Linked DNA regions of Homo sapiens. The protein of the gene in region 2 purifies or fractionates together with the protein of the main gene of each other region. This does not show direct contact. Each region holds a gene or a part of one and is shown on either strand. Other genes may lie near its edges.

What was found.
Region 1: the proteins of LPA (region 2) and CANX purify together in Homo sapiens (affinity purification with western blotting; 3 studies listed by BioGRID). This does not show direct contact.

Annotation. Positions count from the first base shown.
Region 1 is NC_000005.10:179,715,832-179,719,651, forward strand, and holds part of CANX (calnexin isoform d precursor), read left to right. Parts: intron 1-67; coding exon of another isoform or gene 68-169; intron 170-273; coding exon 274-463; intron 464-3,820. UniProt on the Homo sapiens protein: Calcium-binding protein that interacts with newly synthesized monoglucosylated glycoproteins in the endoplasmic reticulum. It may act in assisting protein assembly and/or in the retention within the ER of unassembled protein subunits.
Region 2 is NC_000006.12:160,542,045-160,545,864, reverse strand, and holds part of LPA (apolipoprotein(a) precursor), read left to right. Parts: intron 1-331; coding exon 332-425; intron 426-3,056; coding exon 3,057-3,177; intron 3,178-3,820. UniProt on the Homo sapiens protein: Apo(a) is the main constituent of lipoprotein(a) (Lp(a)). It has serine proteinase activity and is able of autoproteolysis. Inhibits tissue-type plasminogen activator 1. Lp(a) may be a ligand for megalin/Gp 330.

The DNA.
Region 1 (3,820 bases), on a different chromosome or scaffold from region 2:
TTTTTAGTGTCTATAAGTCAAGTCTTTGGTGTTAAAGATTTTAACTATCATTTGCTGTAATTCTTAGAAAGCCGAGGGACTAATCATTTATGTTTCGTGCATAAGGAAATGGGCGTTAGCTTCCCCAAGACCCCAGGAGCCAGGCATTGTTCTTACCCCAAAGCCTCAGGTCAGACTTCTGCTGCTTCACGTTAGAAGTCATGATCTTTTGTATTATGGTAAAGGGAGCTTGGAAAATTAAGTACTTTTAATTCCATTTAATGTTTCTTTCAGTCTTGAATCCAGATAATAGTTTTGAAATACTGGTTGACCAATCTGTGGTGAATAGTGGAAATCTGCTCAATGACATGACTCCTCCTGTAAATCCTTCACGTGAAATTGAGGACCCAGAAGACCGGAAGCCCGAGGATTGGGATGAAAGACCAAAAATCCCAGATCCAGAAGCTGTCAAGCCAGATGACTGGTGAGTCTTGGGGAACTGTCTTCAAGTGTAAGGGAGCATTTCATATATTCCATGTGGCTTGAACAACGAAATGTTGGTTGAGTAAGCTCTGATAATTTCAGTAATCCATGATGCAGTCTAATCTGTAGGGAAAATATAGAGTACTATAGCTGGAAAGGGGCCATAGTGTAATCATCTGGATTGACTCACCATTTTACAAGCCACAGAATGCCACACTTGATAAGAGTTTGTCTGTGGTGACACTGTTGGTTTGTGGCAGAATCTCAGGTCCTTTAACCTGGCTACTCCAGGGCTTCTGTGAACTCACATTTAAAGCCAAAGTTCTGAAATGCTAAATTTTAATTTGAAAAATAACCTTTTTCCTATTTAAACAACAGTCAATTCTCTGCTGTGGGTTGGGTGGTAGAATACAAAGCCACAAGGACACCACCATCTGCCTACACAGAGCTTGAAGTCCAGTTGTGAGGCATGATGTTGGCATGTGGTATCGTAAGGGTTCATGAGAAGGTGCCACAGGAGACCAGAGCACCAGGTGTACCTAAACTAGGCATGGTTTCTTGGAGCAAGGCAAATCAGATTGAGACTTGGCAGTGAGGTGAGAATTAAGGAGTTGGTGAATATGGGAAGGGGTGTTTCTGATTGAAGAATGTCGTATGCAGAAGTAGAGGAGCAGCAATGAGCTTGACATGCGAGGGAGAAATTACATGGCCTTTTATGTAGGGTGCACATTGAAGAGTGAGGAGAAATGAAGATAGCTGGGGCTGTATTCTTGTATATGGCTGTCTTTGAACTTGCAACTTCACACAGTGACTCCAGAAATGTCAGAAAGTGAACAAAGAAATTCTTACCCTTTGTAAAATATCCTCCTATGCTTAGCAATTACATTCTAGATTATCTTTTTCCTCCTTGAAAGGTAAGATACATATAACTGAACTTTTGTACTGCACTAGTATAAATGCCAAGTTTACTTGTATATTTGGTGTATATTAGATTTGGACTTAGCCTTGTTCAGTATTATATTCCTTAACTAGCTTTATCACCTAAGAAGGCCCCTGTACCCATTAAGCGGCCACTCCCTGTTTCCTCCCCCAACTCCCAGCAACCACTAACCTGCTTTCTGCCTCTCTACATTTGTCCACTTTGTATATTTCATATAAAATGGAATCATACAGTATGTGGCTTTCTCTGTCCAGTTTCTTTCATTTAGCACAGTGTTTTCCAGGTTTATCTGTGTTGAAGCATGTATCAGTACTGCATTCCTTTTTATGATTGAATAAATTCTACTGTTTTGATAATGCCACATTTTATTTATCCATCCTTTGGTGGACATTTAGGTTGTTTGCTCCTTTTTGTCTGTGATTATGAATAATGCTGCTATGAATGTTCATGTACTGGTTTTTACATAAATATGTTTTTTCTTTTCTTGCTTTTTTTTTTTTGAGATGGAGTGTAGCTCTGTCGCCCAGGCTGGAGTGCAGTGGCGCCATCACGGCTCACTGCAACCTCTGTCTCCCGAGTTCAAGTGATTCTCCCGCCCTAGCCTCCCAAGTAGCTGGGATCACAAGCGCATGCCACCACACCCAGCTAATTTTTGTATTTTTAGTAGACACGGGGTTTTACCATGTTGGTCAGGCTGATCTCGATCTCCTGACCTCAGGTGATCTACCCGCCTCAGCCTCCCAAAGTGCTGGGATTGCAGGCGTGAGCCACCACACCTGGCCTCTTTTCTTTAGACATGATCTCTGTGTTGCCCAGGTGGGAGTACAGTGGTACGGTCACGGCTCACTGCAGCTTCCACTTTCTGGGGTCAAGCGATCCTCTCCCGCCTTAGCTTCTCAAGTAGCTGGGACTGCAGGTATGCACGCCTGGCTAATTTTTATGGGTTTTTTGTTTGTTTGTTGAGACAGAGTCTCGTTTTGTCACCCAGGCTGGAGTGCAGTGGCACGATCTCGTCTCATTGCAACCTCTGCCTCCCGGGTTCAAACGATTCTCGTGCCTCAGCATCCCAAGTAGCTGGGACTACAAGCGTGCACCACTGCACTCGTGCCTCACCCTCCAAGTAGCTGGGACTACAAGCGCGCACTACTACAAAAAATTCTTGTATTTTTAGTAGAGATGGGATTTCACCATGTTGGCCAGGATGGTCTCAAAATTCTGATGTCAAGTGATCTACCAGCCTCAGCCTCCCAAAGTGCTGGGATTACAGGCGTGTGCCACCGTGCCTGGCTGTGCATGTTTTTTCTTTTTTTTTGAGACGGAGCTTCGCTCTTGTCGCCCAGGCTGGAGTGTAGTGGCGTGATCTTGGCTCACCACAACCTCTGCCTCCCGGTTTCAAGTGATTCTCCTGCCTCAGCCTCCTGAGTAGCTGGGATTACAGGCATGTGCCACCACGCCCAGCTAATTTTGTATTTTTAGTAGAGATGGGGTTTCTCCATGTTGGTCAGGCTGGTCTCAAACTCCCGACCTCAGGTGATCTGCCCACCTTGGCCTCCCAAAGTGCTAGGATTACAGGCATGAGCCACTACACCTGGCTTAATTTTTGTATTTTTTGGTAGAGACAGGGTGTCGTCATATTGGTCAGGCCGGTCTTGAACTCCTGTCCTCAGGTGATCCACCCGCCTTGGCCTCCCAAAGTGCTGGGATTACAGGTGTGAGCCACCGCACCTGGCCTTGTGTATTTTTTTTTTTTTACTAGAGACTGGGTTTCACCTTGTTGCCCAGGCTGGTGTGGCCTCAAGTGATCCTCCTGCCTTGGCCTCCCAAAGTGCTGAGATTACAGGCATGAGCCACTCTGTCTAGCTATAGATATATATTTTCATTTCTCTTGGGTATATATACCTAAAAGTGGAATTGCTGGGTCATGTGGTAACTAACTTTTTGAGAAACTGCCAAACTGTTTTCCAAATGAGCAGTACCATTTTACTTTCCCACCAGCAGTGTATGAGGGTTTCAGTTTCTCTGCGTTCTTTCCAGCATTTGTTTTTATGAGTCTTTTTTATTAGAGCCAACTTGGTACTAAGTGGTATCGTTTTGATTTGCCATTTCCCTGATGGCTAATGATGTTAAGCATCTTTTCGTGTGCTTATTGTATGTTCATATTGTATATTTTTACATTCGTATGTCTTCTTTGGAGAAATGTCTATTAAAATCATTTGCCCATTTTTAAATTGGGTTGTCTTTATATTATTGAGTTGTAAAGAGTTATTTTACTAGGCCCTTAGCAGATATATGATTTACAAGTATTTTCTAAGAGGAATTATTTTAAATTTTGAGATTAAAAACAAATTTTTTTAGAATACTCTGTTCTGATCCACAAAGTGGTACTATACTGTGACCAGTGTTGTCATAACTGGCTTT
Region 2 (3,820 bases):
AGCTCATCAATGATGTCCCACTGTCCTCTGAGGCTCTAGCTCTAAGACCTCCAGTGGGTCAAGCTCCTGGAGAAGTGGCACATTCTCCAAAGACCCTTCAGGGTCACCACACCCTGGTTAAGGGTGTGGCCTCATAACTCCTTTTGACTATGACTGATGGCTTACAGCATAGAAAGAAATAACTTTGTCAAAAAATATAATAATGATAGAAAGGAAGAAGGAACGCTCCCTTTTGTCTTCTAAGAATAGATGTGAAATGTGTGTGCCTTAGAATATCTTCTCCCTCTCCTGCTCCACGTGAGCTGGAGCTTACATGCCTGCTTGTTTTCAGTACTGCCGTAACCCTGATGGTGACATCAATGGTCCCTGGTGCTACACAATGAATCCAAGAAAACTTTTTGACTACTGTGATATCCCTCTCTGTGGTAAGTTGCCTTCTGTTTTGGTAAGGAAACTGCTTCCTTAATATGGATTTGGAAAAAAAAAAGCAAAAAAAACAGAAAATGGCTTTTGAGCTGAGTGCTTCTGGGGAGGAGATGGCTGCCCTCTCCACCAGAGCCTGCTTTTCATCATGGCCACCTTGAACCTGCCCTACTATTGGCCCCATTTGTTAGGAAAACACCCGCCCCTCCCACCACACACACATAAATAAAATAAATGTCAAATTCCCAAAGGGCAAACTTAGAGGTGATCTAATCAGCCCGGGATAGTCCCACCGAACCCTTCTTTGTCTAGCGTGGGATGCATGAAAAACAAATTTAGAGTCATTATGATGAAAAACTGTCCTCTTCTGCAGCTGAGAAGAAAAAAAAAATACGAGCAGCAGGAAACAGCTAAGCATGTAATGCACATTGTAAACCTCAGATGGCCATCCTAGGAAATCAATGAAGGGTAGTGCAGCTCTTTAGCCCCAGATGGCCTTTCTCGTAAGATTACTACTCATGAGTCCCATTAGCGACATTGCTTAGAGACTGCTTGTTAGGTTCCTTCCTCATTGCTCTGAGACTCTTATTGGGAGTATGAGGCTTGGATCAGGGGAAGGGGAATTGACATTAGATCTTAAATGATTGGGGTAACAAATCCATGGGGGAAAAAAAGCCACTTGTACTTGTTCCCTATTTTCTTCCTGCTGACCAATCAACTTGTCTGTCCGAGTTACAGAACACCACCCTGGACTTTTCTTTTGTGTAATTTGGTTGCTTGTGGTTGGGTCTGCCATGTGAAGGGACCTTGAGCTGGGGGAAGAAGGTTGGCCTCCAAGTCCACTGAAGACCAGCATCCTGAGATTGCCTGGGGAGGTGGTACAGGGCAGTGATGAAGATCATGGGAGCCACACTGCCCATCGTCACATTTGGGCCACTCCTGGGGAGAGCAAGAGGGAAGAAGGAGAGGTTAGGGTGATAGGAAAGATTCTACTTGGCCAATATTATTATAATGTGGCATTGTGGTCTCTGGATTTAGTGTGAGTTGATAGCTGACTTTTTTCTCGAGTGGGTGCTTTTGTTCTATTTTGTCGGTGCTATTGCAGAAGCATCTTGGTGGTTCCTCTACCTCAAAGTCTCTTGATGGGGTCAGTTCCAGTTCTCCGCTTCTGGCCCCATCTAGTACACGCCACTGCCTCTCACTGCCTGGGCTCTCTATCCTTGACAGGCTGCCTTGAATTTAAGCCCAGTCTGACTTACCTGCCTCAAACACCCACAGTAGTGCCTGGGACTCATGCACCTTTGACTCCCATGGAAGGGAAGTGCAGTAGCTTCCCAGGTGCAATTCTGCTGTCCTCACCCACATTGAGGATGTATGAGAATCAGGTTCTTAGAGATTGGAGAAAGAAGGAAGAATGGGAACAAGATTTCTTCCAATGGACTGTGAGGTTCCCCACCTTACTTTGATGTAAGACAAGTGAGGTTAACCCCAAGCCTGGTGAGGAGGGTTCCCATCAGACACTTGGAAATCCTGAGGACTGTTTCCTGCAGAAGGATGTGGTTGGTGGGATATTCAGGTTTGACTCATGATTGAGAAAGTTAGAGCCTCTGGTTGGAGAAAGAGTTTAATAACTATTTCATTTCCACCAACACATTCAGTACGAATAATAAATAAGTAAAAATAAATAGAAACATTCAGTTTTATTTTGAATAGTAGGAGTAGGGTATAATTTCTGTAGTTACTCTTTTAGTACAATGATGCATGTTTACTGTATGTAAGGCATACTAGCAGAAATTGAGCTCAGCACTAGAAAAGATGATTGCATTCCATGCCATGCTTCTTTTTTACAAAAGACTTCTATAGATAGATTCTCAAAACAACCCACAGCAAATGAAAAGTTATTTGGAAAACTCAGGTTCCAGATTCACTGGAGTGTAGAATCTCTGGTTGGTTGGGGAGGAATTTCCTCTTGCAGTTGTTATTAATAATTATATGAATAATTATTAACTATATTAATATTTATAGTTTTGAAGACCTTGAAGGGCTGGAGACAACAGAGAAGCATTTTTGAACACCCTCTGTAGCCCCTGCACTGTTGTAGGCATTGATGGGTGGTACCAAAGATGGGACACTTTCCCTACCTCCAGAGACCTTGTGGGCTTGCTGCAGAGAGAAGGCAGGGAGGAGGAAAAGAAGAATAGAGGCACATGTGTGTAAATTACCCCCACAGCAGTCAGTTAGTCATGGGAGGCTCCCCAGAAGAACTGTCCTGAAGCTGGCTGAGAGAAGGCAACATTTCAACATAGGACAGTTATCCTTGCTACATAAAATCACATACACACATGCACATATGTCCACACACAGAGACTCACATGCAAAAGAATCCTTTGTGCCTTTCAGTAAACTTTACATGGTTTAGAAAGAACTTATATTTCCTTGAAAGGAGAGTGTCCTTTGTTGTTTACTACCACTTTTTAAACTTAGAAAGAAAAATCTAAAGAGTGTTTATGATTTTACCATTTAATTTCACCTTTGAGATGTGAAAAACTAGTGCTTGGAATTCGTCCTGAATTAAACGACACAATTGCTAACTTGGACTCAAATGCGACTTCTTTTCCCACCTTGTGCCACAGCATCCTCTTCATTTGATTGTGGGAAGCCTCAAGTGGAGCCGAAGAAATGTCCTGGAAGCATTGTAGGGGGGTGTGTGGCCCACCCACATTCCTGGCCCTGGCAAGTCAGTCTCAGAACAAGGTAAGAACAGGCCCAGAAACCATCTATACTGTCCTTCCATGTAAGCCCCACAAAACCCTTCTACATTTACACAGAACCCACACAGCTGATGCATCAATACCTGCCTCTCTGTTTTCTGAAGGAGGAAAAAATATAGAAAAATTAAAAAAAGTTATATTATTATAGGTTCTCTACTTGGAAAATAGCCAAAATACAAATCTTTTTCTTGATCTGGGCAGTTCCATCAAAATCTGTAGGCACAGTGATTTGCACCAAGTTCCAATACTTTTGGAAAATATTGAAGATGCTCTGAGGGTTTCTATGGATATCCATTGTCTCACTGTCAGATGAAAAGAAAGGGAAGTTTTTAGAAATGTGACACTTTGCAGTGAGGGAGGACAAGAGCAAACTTACCTACAGTCTATCACAGGCACAGATTTTTTTTTACACTTTTGTGAATCATTGAATTCAATGCCGAGGCTATTCATCTATTCACAAACACATGAACAAATTATGGGTTGTGATCCCCATAAATGAAGAGTAATCAGTCCGAACCCACAGAACCTGGACATTTTGGGTATCGTTTCAGTGGAACATGCAATTCGTAAGTTCAGTTTGCTTGGGTGTCTCTTAGGAAGAACACATAGGACACAGACCCATCTGC